2 separate regions of the Homo sapiens genome follow, and region 2 is linked to region 1. The links come from fine-mapping of genetic effects on gene expression. A gene starts in region 1. The other region holds a variant in brackets. All regions are shown on one strand. Distances are between the middles of the regions.

The links. PIP is the estimated chance that this variant, and not a neighbour inherited with it, causes the effect.
Region 2: its variant is the best candidate, but not a certain one, in a credible set for the expression of CFAP70 in whole blood (INTERVAL, PIP 0.74).

The regions. Positions count from the first base shown.
Region 1 is chr10:73,355,542-73,364,075 of GRCh38, reverse strand. CFAP70 (cilia and flagella associated protein 70) reads left to right here and starts at 5,212. Exons shown (of 28, transcript NM_001367801.1): 1 at 5,212-5,298. RefSeq lists enhancers at 5,018-5,543, 5,388-5,607, 5,544-6,069.
Region 2 is chr10:72,417,054-72,425,053 of GRCh38, reverse strand. It overlaps MICU1 (mitochondrial calcium uptake 1), which reads left to right. Exons shown (of 12, transcript NM_001195518.2): 9 at 1,683-1,820. Among named protein-coding and RNA genes, the nearest start is that of DNAJB12, 66 kb to the right of the region's middle. RefSeq lists an enhancer at 1,768-2,501. The variant G/C (reference allele first, on the strand shown) is at 3,808.

The sequences.
Region 1 (8,534 bases):
GCCTCCCTAGTAGCTGGGGCTACAGGTGCCCGCCACCACACCTGGCTAATTTTTTGTATTTTTAGTAGAGACGGGGTTTCACCATGTTAGCCAGATGGTCTTGATCTCCTGACCTTGTGATCCACCCACTTCAGCCTCCCAAAGTTCTGGGATTACAGGCATGAGTACACCTGTAGAAGGCCTGTAAAAAATAATTTTTTAATAAAAAGCTTATAAGGACATACAGAAAATATTTTTGTATAGCTGTAAGAGTCAAAAAGTTAAGAAGTTTAGGCTGAGTGCAGTGGCTCACGCGTGTAGTCTCAGCACTTAGGGAGGCCGAGGCAGGTGCATCACTTGAGCCCAAGAATTCAAGACCAGCCTGAGCAACATGGTGAAACCCCATCTCTACAAAAAATACAAAAAGGCAGGAGGTTTGCTTGAGCCCAAGGAGACTGAGAATGCAGTGAGCCATGATCATGCCACTGCACTCCAGCATGGGTGACAGAATGAGACCGTGTCTCCAAGGGAAAAAAAAATGTTTAGGAAGCAAAAACGTTACAGTAAGCTAAATTAAATTTATTATTAAAAAGTTTTAAAATAAATTTAGTGTAGCCTAATTATATAGTGTTTGTTAAGTCTGCAGTAGTATACAGTAATGTCCTAGGCCTTCACAATTCACTCACTACTCATTCCTTCACTCACCCAGAGCAACTTCTAGGCCAGCAAGTGCCATTCATTGTGAGTGCCTTCTACAGGTGTACTATTTATCTTTTATGCCATATTTTTACTGTACTTTTTCTATGTTTAGATACACAAGTACTTACCATTGTGTTACAATTGCCTACAGTATTCGGTATGATAACATGCCATACCTGTTTGTTGCCTAGAAGCAATAGGATATACTCTATATGACTTAGGTATGTGGCAGGCTACGCTATCTAGGTTTGTGTAGATACACTATTTGCATTTCCATCACATTTAGTGATGTTGAGCATTTTTTCATATATCTGTTGGCCATTTGTATACTTTCAAGAAATGTCTATTTAGATCTTTTGTCCATTTTAAAATCAGATTATTTGTGGGGTTTTTTTTTTGGATTTTTTTTTTTTTTTTGGTGTTGAGTTTCTTATATACTCTGGACATTAACCCCTTGTCAGATGCATAGTTTGTAAATAAAGACCATGTATGACAGACACACAGCTAACATACTGAATGAGGACACGTTGAAAGCTTTTTCTCTAAAATCTGGAACAAGACAAGGATAGCCACTTTCACTACTTCTAGTCAACATAGTACTGGAAGTCCTAGCCACAGTAATTATGCAAGAGAAAGAAACAAAGGGCATCTAAATTGGAAAGAAAGAAGTCAAACTTCCTGTCTGCAGATGACATGAATTTATACACACAAAACCCTAAAGATTCCACCAAAAAACTGCTAGAAGTAATAAATTCAGTAAAGTTGCAGGATACAAAAGCAACATACAAAAATCAGTAGCATTTCTATATGCCAATAGTGAACTATCTGAAAAAGAAAACAGCAATCCCATTCACAATTGCTACAAAAAACAAAACAAAAACCCTAGGAAGTTTTAACCAAGTAGGCAAAAGATCTCTACAATGAAAACTACAAAACATTGATGAAAGAAACTGAAGACACAAATAGTATCCTATGTTCATGGATTAGAATAATTAACATTATTAAAATGTTCATACTTCCCAAAGTGCTCCACAGATTCAACACAATCTCTATCAATATTGCAATGACATTCTTCACAGAAATAGAAAACCCTCAAATTTATAGTTTTAGTTCTTACATTTAGGTCTTTGGTCCATTTTGAGTTATTTTTTGTATATGGTGTGAGGTAAGGGTCCAACTTCATTCTTTGCATGTGGACATTGTTTTTCCTTGTACCATTTGTTTAAAAGACTATATTACCCCCTCCCTCCCACATCCCAGTAGATCATCTTGGCACTCTTGTTAAAAATCAGTTGACCGTAAATGTAAGAGTTTATTTCTGAACTCTCAATTCAATTGATTATTTTGATCTATATGGCTATCTTTATGTCTTTATTACTGTCTTCGTTACTTGATTACTGCAGCTTTGTAGAAAGTTTTGAAATTGGGAAGTGTGAGTTTTCCAACTGTTCTTCTGTTTCAGGATTGTTTTGGCTACTCTGGGTCCCTTGCATTTCCATATGAATTTTAAGATCAGCTTGTTAATTTCTGAAAGAAAAAAAAAACAGTTGGGGTTTTCATAGTGATTGCTTTCAATCTGTAGATCAATTTGGGGATGAGCAATACATTTGATTGTATTATTGTCAGAAATATGTTGACTTTGGAAGTAACAAATTAGCTAATTAGAAACAAGTCTTTTGGAGTAATGAGAAAGGAATTTGTTGAGCTAGTGCATCATTTAATGGAGGCCTTTGAAACTCAGACTAAGGCATTCAAATTTTATTAGAAAGATATTTTTATAGTTTTTTTCCCTGAAATTGGTTTGCATATGTAGATGATTTTATTATGATTCCAGTACTATTATATTTTCCATACCACTAAAGAGGGCTTTTTCCATACACAAGTGGATGTTTTAAATCAGTCAAAAAGAATGCCTTTCAAACAGAGTGGCCACTGCTAAGCACTGTAGGAGAATAAAAGAACTGTAACACACACACACACGGGAGGCTGAGGTGGGAGGGTCACTTGAACCCGGGAGGCAGAGGTTGCAGTGAGCCGAGATCATATCATGCCACTGAACTCCAGAGCAAGACTGTCTCAATAAAGAAAAAAAAAAAAAAAAAAAGGCCGGGCATGGTGGTTCATGCCTGTAATCCCAGCACTTTAGGCGGCTGAGACAGGTGGATCACCTGAGGTTAGGAGTTCAAGACCAGCCTGGCCAACATGGCCCTGTCTCTACTAAAAATACAAAAATTAGCCGGGCGTGGTGATGGGTGCCTGTAATCACATCTACTCCAGTGGCTGAGGCACAAGAATCACTTGACCACAGGAGGTGGAGGTTGCAGTGAACCCAGATTGCGCCACGGCACTCCAGCCTGGGCTACAGAGTGAGACTCCATCTTAAAAAAAAAAAAAAAGAAAATTGTAACATACAGCCCTTGCTCTCAGGTACCCTAAAGTTGAATGGAGATTAATTATGTTTAAGGAGGTGACATCTGTTATTTATCCTTGCTTGCCTAAGACCTTGAAGCAAAGTACTAAGTAGACCAAGATCATGAGCGATTTCTGGAAGAACAGCTCCCTATTAAAGACTTGGCCTAACCCAGCTTATTATGTAGAAAGAGTCTGTCATTTGCAAGTGGGATAGCTGTCTCAGTGCAAATTCACCCAAAACTCTCACTTGGGAAAAAAAATCCAGAGAGAAATCCTTACTCAGTAGTGCCACAGTAGTTTTATTTTGAGAACCTTTATTACCTGTAACACTGCAACTTTCAAAAAATATTTCTCAATATTTATAATGTTTCTTTATTCATATAAATAAAAATTTTAAAATTTGACTCTGGTAACTATTTCCTAAGCAAAGGGCTTCCCAGGGAGAGTGGTTATGCGTGTGTATATATTTTAATTGTTTTGAAATGATCTCGAATGTATAGAAAAGTTGCCCAAATCGTGTAAGGAAGTCCCATGTCCCCTGCACTCAGATTCCCAAATAGTTAACACTTTATTGCACTTGTTCCATTGCTCACTGTGTGTGTATGTGTGCAGGTGTGCATGCATGTGCATATGTGTGTGTACATGTGTATGTATCCCTTGTTAGTCTTTTTCTGGACCTTTTGAAAGTCAAGAGAGCAAATTGAAGAGATGGTGTCTCATCACTCCTAAACACACTAGTGTTTATTTTCCCCTAAACAGGGACACTCTCCTACCTAACAACAAACAAACTTCCACATCAGGAAATCAATATTGGTACAACACTACCATCCAATTCAGATGAGATTGGGCATGTTCGGGGTGGTATGCGATTCACAGAGCTAATTCACATTTTTCCCACCGTCCTAACAATGTTGTTTTCCTTTCTGGTCCAGAATGCTATACAGAGATACATATTGAATTTAGTTGTCATATAACCTCAGTCAGAGACAGTTCCCAGTCTTTCTTGTCCTTGGATGGTCTACAACCTGAGTTCCTTTCATGGTAGGAAAACCAAAAAGGATGCTTTGTGTGTGTGTGTGTGTTTTTTTTTAGTGTGTTTCACCAGGAGGCTCACAATGTAGACTCCTCCCAACACTGGTGATGTTAACCATGATCACCTGATCATGTTGGTTGCGTCCATTCACTGTTTCCCCCTCTGTAATCAAGTAGTATTCCATGGAAGCATTCCAAAATCACGCCAGTATTCTATGCCTCATAGAACATCTACCCACCAGCCTTAGCGTCCATTGAAGACTCCTGCCTGAGTCATCCTCCTCAGTAGTTGTCAAATGGTAGTTCTCTATTTCCATCCTTCTCGCTACACTTCTGGGTTGGCATCCTACTTTGAAAGAGTTTTCCTTTTTCTCTGTATCAACACGGACTTGCATATTCCTATTTTATTCAATGGGTTGTAATCCGTTATCGTCGTTGTTTACTTCATGCTCAAATTGTCCCTTATTTGGCCCATGGGAGTCCCTTCAAGCTGGCTCTTAACACTGCAACAATTTAAAGTATATATACTGCTAAAATTCATCCGTGTTGTGTGTATGGCTGCAGTTCATTAACTTTGACTGCTTGTAATATGCCATTTTGTGAATATGCCACAGTTTATTGGTCCACTCATCCACTATTCCTTCGACGGGCACTTGGGTTGTTTCCAGGTTATTGCTATTGTGTTTTGCTATTCTAGCTCTTTAATGTTAAATTTTGAATATTAAAAATTTGTATTAACATCATAAACTTCAGGTCTGTTTATTGTACAAATATTGAGCACCTAGAAGCAGGGTCATTTTGCACTCTCATCAACAGGGCGTGACGGGCTCATTTAAAAAATATTGCATATTTCACGGAGAAATATTTAAATGATGTTTTCAAATCAGTTTAATAAAGGCCTTTTTCTTTAAACTTCCTTTTGCTTTTTTCCCTCCTATTATAGAGAAATATTGAAATCAAAGAGTCGAGAAAGCAAAATGTAAAGGTGGAAACCTATGCACTTAAACCCAACTCTTGGCAAGGTAAAGCATCCGCGGAAACAGCAGGCTCTCGAAGTGAGGAGGCTGCAGCCGGCGCTAGGGCGCAGGCGCAGAAGCTCAGCGTCTCGCTCCCTGCTCCCGGCCCCAGAGGGTTATCGCGAGTCTTGGAATAAACTTGCTCGTGCGATGGCCAAAAGTAAGTTCTCGCGAGAGGTAGTTGGTTGCTATAGTTGTCAAAAACATAACTGAGGCTGCTGCAGGTAAGACAGTGATCCCTCCTGAAGAAACTCTCTCTTCCCGGCCTCCCCACCTCAGCCCTGCGGCCACACCACAGCCGTCACCCCGATCTTCTGCTCCCTTAGCTAAGGCCAGGCTGAAAACCCCGATATTTAGACCGAAAAGCCGCTGGCCCGGCCAGGTGCGGACTCTGCCGCCAACCCCAGCCCGGCGACCTCCACAGGAGCGCGGACGTAGACCTTCCTTTACCGCTTCTCGTCGGAGGCCTCCTCATTCTGCGCTGACTGCGCTTGTCCCCAGACCAGACTCAGTCACATCGCCTCCTTCGTCTAACCTTTTTCTCACTGGACTCTCCCCTTGCAGCTTCTTCCGAGCAGATGACAAGAAATGCGTGCCTTGCCGGGGGCAACAAGAGTCCCCACCCTAGCTGCCCTGACTATAACTTTAGTCCTATATCTTGCATTCATAATTCAAACACGACGCGAACGCCTGTTGTGTACAAGACATGGTGCCAGGCACTCTGGGCCCGTAAATATGCGTGAGACAGGTTACATGCCTTCAAGGGTGTAAATGAGCTCTCAGGACAAACGCTGCATATTAATAATACCATTTGTGCAGTGCTTCATACTTAAAAAGCTTTAATATCTTAGGGGATATTCACAATAAATGTGAAACAGGTTGGAAGTTATCCATTTTACAGAAGGTGAAACTGAGGCTTAGAGAAGTTAGGCATTTGCCTAGGGGCACATAGTTGTTAAGTAGGAAAGGTCTTTTGAATACCCAGTCTTCATAAACAGGACAGCTTGTGGTAATGCCACAAAAGACGTGTAAAGTGCTAAATGAATTCAGAGGAAAGGCAAGTTTTTCCGACTGGGAAGCTTCATGGACTAGGAAGCATTTGAGCTGGATTTTAAAGGATGAGTAGGATTTGCTGTAGAGACGGAGTGAGGAGAAAGGGAGAGATAATTCCAGGGGGAAGGAAAAATGCAAAGGTTCAAAAGCGACTAAATGCAGGTAATCTTTGAAAAATACTAAGCAAGAGCATAAGCTAGAAGAGGGGAGTTGACTGGCACTGCAAGATCCTAGAAAGCCCTGAATGTAGTACTACATTTAACTACAGTTAAACTGTAGTGTTACAGTTTATTTGGTAGGTGAGAGGGAACAAGACAGTGATACGATCAGATCTGTACTTTAATAAGGTATTTATCTGCTTGTCTCTTCTCATTTTCTCCCTATTTCTTCTTACTCCACCACTGCAAGCTACTTGCTACTTGCTATGTGTGTTGTTTTGCCTCTGAACGTTTTAAAATCTGTTCCCTTTCTTGGAATATCCTTCCCTTTATTAAGACATAGTTCCAGCGTACTTCCTCCAAGATTTTCCTGGCATGCATATGTATTCTCAAATCCAGCTAGGTCCCAGCTTCATTCAGCACTTCCTTGCTGTATGACTGCTGGTAAGATAACAAACTTCTCTGAAGCTCAATTTTTTTCAATCAAATAGAGATTTAAGAATCTCTTAGAAGGGAGGCTACATTTAAGATAATAAATGCGAAGCACACTTGGCACACTGGCTATAATCAGTTAATTTCCTTGCTTCTCTCATTCTTTTTATTTGTAAAAGAAAAAATAAATTTCCACCCCCCTTTTCCTCCCTGTGTGTTTCACTCCTCCCTTCTTTCCTCTGTCAGAGCACCTGTCTCACAGATTATGACTCCTGGTCTAGTTACACGTCTCTCGTCCTCACTAGATTTTAAATTTCTTGAGGTTAGAGAGTTCACATCTTATCTCTTGTATCCTCAGCACCCATCACAGTGCCAAGCTTAACAAGTTTTTTCAATGAGCAATTCTGACAAAAGCAGGATGAATTAGAGTGAGAAACTGGAGTCAGAGACACCAGTTAGGAGGCTTTTGTTACAGTCTAGCAGAAGGGTAATGAAGGCCTAATGCCATATTATTGAAAAGGAAAGAAGACTGATACAAAAGGGCATTTCAAATGTACATTTGACAAAGAAGTTGTCAGTGCCACTAAAGCCCTTAAAGAGCCCAGAAATATGTTGTTGAACAAATGATTTGACACTTTTAGGTGACTGGAAAAATGCTGGAGTAGCTGAGAAGAGGCAGGATAATTATAAAGTCTGAAGGCTGTAAGATGTTGTTTTCTCTTTTGTATCACCAAGTACACTTAGCATAGTATGTCCTCAGTAAATGTTTGAATTGAGTTAGAAAATAAGGCCTTTTCAACAGGCACAGTGGCTCATGCCTTTTAATCCCAGCACTTTGGGAGGCTGAGGTGAGTGGATTGCTTGAGCCTAGCCGTCGAGACCAGCCTAGACAGCATGGTGAAACCCTGTCTCTACAAAAAATACAAAAATTAGCTGGGCGTGGTGGCGCATGCCTGTAGTCCCAGCTACTCAGGAGGCTGAGGTGGGACAATCACTTGAGCCTGGGAGGTTGAAGCTGCAGTGAGCTGTGATCACACCACTGCACTCCAGCCTGGGTGACAGAATGAGAGCCTGAAAAAAAAAAAAAGGAAGGAAGGAGAGATAAAAGACCTTTTCCAAAAAACAAATATCCAATTTATTATCGAAATTGTTTGTGCCCTTAGTATTGTAAAATTGACAGTATATCTGACTAAATAAGAAATACATTAAGACCTTTTCCAGTGGACTACCATTTTGTGTGGCTGCTTCTTTCCTGCTCTCAAAATATATTTTTGTAAAACTGAGAAGTTAAATAATGTTTGAAGGGAGCTTTGCAGATTAAAAAAAACGGTTACCAGAGAACACTGTGAACAGTGTATGGCAGCAGTCCCCAACCTTTTTGGCACCAGGGACCAGTTTCGTGGAAGACAATTTTTCCACAGACTGGGGGCAGCGGGGATGATTCAACCACATTACATTTACTGTGCACTTTATTTCTATTAGTATTACACGGTAATATATAATGAAATTTTTTTGTTTTGAGACGGAGTCACTCTTTTGCCCAGGCTGGAGTTCAGTGGTGTGATCTCAGCTCACTGCAACCTCTGCCTGCCGTGTTCAAGCGATTCTCCTGCCTCAGCCTCCCAAGTAGCTGGGACTTACAGGCATGTGCCATCACACCTGGCTAATTTTTGAATTTTTTAGTAGAGATGGGGTTTCACCGTATTGGACAGGCTGATCTCGAACTCCTGACTTGGTGATCCGCCCGCCTCGC
Region 2 (8,000 bases), 940 kb after region 1:
AGGATAGTAAATTGAGTCATAAATCACACTTAAATTGAATCCTGAAAACTTTTGGTATTGTCAAAAATTTATCAGCTCTATAGAAAGATGGTGTGACAAACATCAAAAATTGAGTGGCAGTGTTGAAAAAGAGGCTTTCACCTAATATTGATGATGTTGATTTCTTTAGACATAGTTTTGTGTCTCATTTAAATGTGACTAAGCCCCATGGCTGTATAAGTTTATCCAAAACAACACAGTGCTATTGTACAGGAAGCGAATGTGCCACTGCTCAGAAGTAGGAAATGGTGTGGTGTTGAGAGATAGTCTTTGGACCCAAATAAGGCTGAGTTCAAATCCCAGCTCTGTCACATGTAGCTGCATGTTACTTCAGTTTTCTCATCTGCAGAGTGGAGCTAATAGTAGCTGCTCTGTAGGCTGTTATAGTGACTATATGAGGCCAGGCACAGTGACTCACACCTGTAATCCCAGCACTTTAGGAGGCCAAGGCAGGCAGATTGCTTGATCCCAGAAGTTCAAGACCAGCCTGGCAACATAGCAAGACCCCCATCTCTATTTACAAAAAAAAAAGTAATTAAAAAAAAGAACATATTGGTGAAGTACCTGGCCCATAGTACATACTCAGTAAATGGTCACTGTTAGGCCAGCCATGGTGGTTCATGTCTGTAATACCAGCACTTTGGGAGGCCGAGGCCAGTGGATCACCTGAGGTCAGGAGTTCAAGACCAGCCTGGCCAACATGGTGAAACCCTATCTCTCCTAAAAATACAAAAATTAGCCAGGCGTGGTGGTGTGCACCTGTAATCCCATTTACTCGGGAGGCTGAGACAGGAGAATCGCTTGAACCTGGGAGGTAGAGGTTGCAGTAAACCAAGATCGCACCATTGCACTCCAGCCTGGATGATGAGTGAAACTCCGTCTTAAAAAAAAAGGTGGGGGGGAAATGGTCACTGTTATAGGTTGATACAAAAGTAATTGTATTAAAATACAGTTCTATGTTTTGCTCATTGACACAGTCCCACTACTAAGGAAACAAATTTAGGTCTCTGTCAACTTACTGAGCTAGCTGAAGAAATGAGAGCTGAAAGAGAAATTCACTCTTAACTTTCTTATTTCGTGTCTCATATGTAAGTCCTATCTCTATCAATGTCCTAACATTTTATTGCTATTTTGGGGAAACTTGAAAATATATTACTCTTCTTTAAAATTATGCTCTCAGACCTTTATGAATTTTTTAGAAGAGTAATCAATATTATTATCTTTAAAGCAAAATTAGGAATGCTTCCATTCATAAGATATCAGGATATCGGGATATTGCTGAGTCTGGGTCTGATCAGTAAATGTTATCCATCTGTTCCGTTAACCATAAACATCTAGAGGCTAGGAATACCTAACTTCCTGGGAATGCAGCCCAGCAAGTCCCAGCCTCATCTTTCCTAGACCTTACTCAAGATGCTGTTGCTCTGGCTTGACTGTCTCTGACAATAGTAAGTGGCAGATCTGGGATAAGAACCTATATCTTCTGTTTCTTAGTTTTTGCAGATCTTACTGAGAATTGTACCTCAAAAATATAGTCCCAGTCATCAGCTATTTTCTGCCATCAAACACAGCTGATCATTCCGTGTTCCACGTCAAAATACTTTCCATTGACCCTAGGAACATTCTTTCTGTTTCCCTCCCAGTTTGAACGCCATGACCCTGTGGATGGGAGAATTACTGAGAGGCAGTTTGGTGGCATGCTACTTGCCTACAGTGGGGTGCAGTCCAAGAAGCTGACCGCCATGCAGAGGCAGCTCAAGAAGCACTTCAAAGAAGGAAAGGTAGGTAGCTTTGGCTGGAGGAAGAAGAGAAACCGTGGTAATGTATGGTTATTATTTAATATGAAGGTATTAACATAATGATGAGAGTATTTCATGAACCAATGATTACACCTAATTCATTTCTGGTACCTGAGGTCCGTAGGGAGAAAAGAAATAAGCAATGGGTGAGGAAGAGGAGAGCGTCCAGAATCATCCCAGGTTTCTTGTTCAGGAAAGGGTGGCACCAACTGAAATTGAGAATTTTAAAGGAGAGACCGGTTTAGATGGGAAAATAAAGAATTCAGTCATGGGCTGGTCATGGTTCAAGACCAGCCTGGCCAACATGGTGAAACCCCATCTCTACTAAAAATACAAAAATTAGCTGGGCATGGTGGCGCGTGCCCATAATCCCAGCTACTCAGAGGCTGAGGCACAAGAATCACTTGAAACCAGGAGGCAGAGGTTGCAGTGAGCCAAGATTATGCCACTGAACTCCAGCCTGGGCAACAGAGTGAGACTTCATCTCAAAAAAAAAAAAGAATACCTAAAGAGAGTAGTGAAATCAAAGTCAAGGAAATAGAAGGTTCAAGAACTGAGGGGTCTACCATGTCACATATAACAGCGAGGATCCAGTAAGCTAAAGGTGGTAACATCCATTGGTTTTGGTGAAATGGCAGTAATTGGTGACCTTTGAGAGGGCTGTTTCATTAGAGTAGTCTAGTTGGAAGGCATCCCTATTCGATGAAAAGTACAGAAGCAGAGAAAGGAGAGAGGTGGAAGAGGAGGCTCTGGAAAGTGGGAAATCACATAGGCAAATTCCAAGGCAGTGTATTAGCCTACTGGGGCTTCTGTAACAACATACCACAGACTGGGTGGCTTTAACAGGAAAAATTTATTTTCTCACATTCCTGGAGGATAGAATCCTGTGATTAAGGTGCCAGCTGATTTGGTTTCTGATAAGAGCTCTCCTCCTGCCTTGCAGGTAGCTGCCTTTTCAATGTGTCCTCACACAGGCTTTCCTCAGTGTGTGTACATGAAGAGAGGGAGAAATCTCTTTGTGTTTCTTCTTATAAGAACACTAATCCTAGCAGATTAGGGCCCCACCCTTGTGACCTCATTTAGCCTTGTTATTTCCTCTAAGGCCCCATCTCCAAATACAACCACATTGGGCACAGTAGGGGTTAGGGAGGGCTTCAACATATGAATGGGGTAGGGGGTGGGGTCAGTCCATAACAAGCAGGAAAAACAAACCTGGTATGTGTGAAGAACTGAAAAGGGACTAGTTTGTATAGAAGGTTCTGAGCAAAAAGGAGAGTGGCCTGAGCTGAGCTCAGAGAGGGATATGAGGAACAGAACATGCAAGACTTCATAGGAATGGAGGGAGTTTGGAGTTCACTCACAGTGCAATGGAACGCCATTAAATAGTTGTGAGTAGTGAAATGACATGGTTGTATGTACGTTTAAAGAGACAACTCTGGCTGTTTTATGGAAGATAGTTTGGAGAAGAGCAAGCATAGAAACAAAAAGACTGATAATAAGCCTATTAGAATTTAGGAGATGAGTTAGAGTTTTTTGAGCAGCCTTGAGGTTGGAGAACATGGATTTGTGGAACACTAGCAACACTGCTCTCTGGTACCCTTCAACGCCAGCTGCCCCTGGTACAAGGAAAGAAAAGATGGTGGCTGCGCACGGTGGCTCACGCCTGTAATCCTAACGCTTTGGGAGGTCAAGACACGCAGATCACCTGAGGTCAGGAGTTCAAGACCAGCCTGGCCAACATGGCAAAACCCTGTCTCTACTAAAAATACAAAAATTAGCCAGGCGTGGTGGTGGGCGCCTATAATCTCAGCTACTCAGGAGGCTGAGGCAGGAGAATCGCTTGAACCCGGGGAAGGGAGGGTGCAGAGGGAGGCGGAGGTTGCAGTGAACCAAGATCACACCACTTCACTCCAGCGTGGGAGAAAGAACGAAACTCTATCTCAAAAAAAAAGATAAAGAAAAAAAGAAA[G/C]AAAGAAAAGATGATAGGACTGAATCAGCATCTGAGAGAGAGATGAACAAACAGAAGCAGAGACCAGTTAAAAGGTCAGTCCTCATCAGGCATGGTGGCACATACCTGTAATCCCAGCACTTTGGGAGGCCGAGGCAGGAGAATCAAAGTTCAAGACTTGCCGCAATGTAAGACGTGTCTTTTCTTTTTATTTTTCTTTTCTTTTTATTATTATTATTATTATTATTATTTTTTTTTTTTTTTTGAGACGGAGTTTCGCTCTTGTTGCCCAGGCTGGAATGCAATGGCGTGATCTCGGCTCATCGCAACCTCCGCCTCCTGGGTTCAAGTGATTCTCCTGCCCAGAAGTTCAAGACCAGCTTGGGCAAAGTGGCGAAACCTTGTCTCCACAAAAAATACAAAAACTAGCCAGGCATGGTGGCACGTGCATGTAGTCGCAGCTACTCAGGAGACTGAGGTGGGAGGATCACCTGAGCCTGGGGAGGTTGAAGCTGCAGTTAGCTATGATCATGCTACTGCACTCCAGCCTGGGTGACAGAGTGAGACCTTGTCTTAAAAAAAAAAAAAATCCAGGCCTCTAAGAGAACACACACACATAAACACACAAAGCAGTGCTAAGGCTAGAACCCAGATTTTCTCATTCCCAGCCCAGTACTCTTCCCACTGGACAATGGCTACCATCTGACCATGACCAAGAATCTAACCTGGCACTAAAAATGTTCCATGAGAGATTTCCAAGTGTATTAGTCCATTCTCATGCTGCTAATAAAGACATACCGAGACTGGTAATGTATAAAGGAAAGAGGTTTGATTTCACAGTTCCACATGGCTGAGGAGGCCTCACAATCACGGCGGAAGGCAAAGGAGAAGAAAAGACATGTCTTATGGCTGGGCGCAGTGGCTCATGCCTGTAATCCCAGCACTTTGGGAGGCCGAGGCAGGCAAATCACCTGAGGTTGGGAGTTGGAGACCAGCCTGACCAACATGGAGAAACCCCCTCTCTACTAAAAATACAAAAAGTTAGCCCGGCGTGGTGGTGCATGCCTGTAATCCTAGCTACTCAGGAGGCTGAGGCAGGAGAATGGCTTGAACCCAGGAGGCAGAGGTTGCGGTGAGCCGAGATCGCGCCATTGCACTCCAGCCTGGGTAACAAGAGCGAAACTCCGTCTTAAAAAAAAAGGAAAAGACACGTCTTACGTTGTGGCAGGCAAGAAAGAGAGCATGTGCAGGGGAACTCCTTTTTGTAAAACCATCAGATCTTGTGAGACTTACTATCAAAAGAACAGCACATTAAAGACCTACCCTCATGATTCAATTACCTTTCACCAGGTCCCTTCCACGACACATGTGCATTATGGGAGCTACAATTCGAGATTTGGGTGGGGACACAGCCAAACCATATCACCAAGATAGTGTGGCATGGTAGGCATGAAGATGGAAAACTTGAGACTAACTTCTGCCTCAGAGGTTCCCATAGTCATTAGACAAATCACTTAACCTTACTGGCCTCATGAATTGAGAGGCTTATCCTAGATGCTTGCTGTAAGGGCCCTTCTAGCTTTAAAGATTCAATAATTGAAAATAAGATAGAGGATTGCTAGTGCTTGTCCCAGTTTTCCTAGTTAGTCTTTGTGCAAGAAATGTTGCATGCATAGCATTGCCCTAACTTGGTGGAAAACCCTTCTTATCAGCCAGACTTTTTCCTCCTTGTCTTGGATATTGAAAAGTTGAAAGGACCTCTGAACCAGGCTGTGGGCTGCAAATGAGGGCAGGCTGGCTCTGAGAGGAAGTGTCAGCTTCTCTGAACTCAGTCCAGCCTTTTCCCACAGCAGGTGTTCTCTTGGCTGTGGGGAAGACTCATCATTAATGGAAAGTGACAGAGAAAAAACATTTATCTCCCATAGAGCACTTCTACAGTACCCAATACTTAGCTTATATCTGTTGGAAATCGTAATTTCAAAAAACTGATTACGAATGTATAGGTGGATTTTTTACCCCTATGCTGGAAGAATAGTGTTTACATTCAGACATGCTCGTTTATTTAGACCATGCTTATTTTTAAAGGTTGGTCCAGATATTGATTTGACTTTAATTATCTATCATGATAGGTGAATTCATATTTCATTGTGAGTTTACACTTAAAAGCAATAAGGGGCATTGGAGGCATCTCCCTTGAAGGAAGAGTATTTGAGCATTGGCAGGAGTTAATTTAGGATCTGAAGACCTTGCAAAAGAGCTCTAAAATGAAAGGACAAATTTTGTCAGATGATGAAAATCTGCGGTGTTAAATTACTTTTGGCCCAGAATTTCTAGCCTGTGTTAGCAACGAGATTAAGATTGATTGTCCTCTCATGTTGATTAAATAGTTTGTGAACATAGCAATTAACTAAAGTGAGTGTCAAGGAAGGGCCTTTGCTCCTAAGGTTACGAGTCCATCTCTCTAGGACCATTTCCTATAAAAGGGGAATCACCATCTGCTTTCTAATTGCTTCTTTTATTCCACTTTGGATTTGTTAACATGAAAATGTAAGTTTTCATTTGGCTGACATTAATCAGTTTCTGTGTGAGGTTCTGTATCAAGGTATCAAACAAGACCTAAGAGATTGAAGGTCCTAGTGGTGGTATTAAATTTTTGCATATAAATTAATGACCATGCAATGTTTCACAGCCATTTTTCTCTTCCTTTCTAACAGCCTTGTTAGATACTGTATTTTTGAGAATATAGAGACAGAAAGAGAAGTTAATAACCCATTCAGAGTCTGGTCTAAAATCCAAGGCTTCCTATTCCAGATCTTGTCTTTTCCTTAAGAAAGTGCTGTTTCTCCTAATCATACTCTTCCTGTAAAGCAGTGCTTCTCTACTATAGGATCACTTGAGGAATTTTTAAGGAATGTGGTTGTTTGGGCCCTCTTCAAATCAATTAAATCAGAGGCTCAGTAGGTGGGTCCAGGCATCAGTGTTCTGGGGTTTTCTTAACCCTCTGCATGAGAAATTCCAGAAGTGTTTCTTAAAGGGTGATATGGTTTGGCTGTGTCCCCACCCAGATCTCATGTTGAATTGTAGTTCCCATAATCCCCATATGTCCTGGGAGGGAACAGGTGGAGATAATTGAATCATGGGGCAGTTTCCCCCATCCTGTTCTCATGACAATGAGTTAGTTCTCATGAGATCTGATGGTTTCATAAAAGGCTTCCCCCTTCACCAGGCACTCATTCTTCTTCCTGCTGCCATGCGAAGAAGGATATGTTTGCTTCCCCTTCTGCCATGACTGTAAGTTTCCTGAGGTGTCCCTAGCCCTGCAAAACTGTGAGTCAATTAAACCTCTTTCCTTTGTAAATTACCTGGTCTCAGGTATGTCTTTATTAACAGCATAAGAACGAACTAATACAAAGGGTCCCCAGGTAAATCTAATGTGCAGCTAGGCTTATGAGCCACTGCTCGAGAGATGCAATGCTCCATCAGTGTCTCTAGCTGTTTTATCTCTAAGTAATAGTTTGAAGAACTGGGGAACCTGCCGTGCTTGACAAAAATTACTCTATTGATGCTCTGAAAAACCACCATGTTTTTATTTAACAAAGAGTTTTCTGAGACTTCATAAATGTAATTCACAGTGGTGATCCTCTATGTTTATGAATGCAGAAGCTACTAACTAGTAACTTCTTAAGGATGAAATTGAAAATTATAACTCAGTTCAATGGCAGACATTGCTGTGTGCAAGACACTAAGCCAGGTGCTGTGAAAAAGACCTTCCCTTATCCTTACAACTATATTTCTTTTTTTTTTTTTTTTTTTTGAGACGGAGTCTTGCTCTGTTGTCTAGGCTGGAGTGCAGTGGCCTGATCTCGGCTCACTGCAAGCTCCGCCTCCTGGGTTCATGCCATTCTCCTGCCTCAGCCTCCTGAGTAGCTGGGGCTACAGGTGCCCACTGCCACGCCTGGCTAATTTTTTGTGTGTTTTTAGTAGAGACAGGGTTTCACCATGTCAGCCAGGATGGTCTCGATCTCCTGACCTCGTGATCCACCCGCCTTGGCCTCCCAAAGTGCTGGGATTACAGGCGTGAGCCACCACACCCAGCACAACTATATATATTTCTTAAGTCTGTAATAGTCTAGTAAGAGAAAAATATGTATGCAAAGAACTCTGTAATTCTATATTCACATTTATATTCAATATTTATCGATCAGCCACTATGT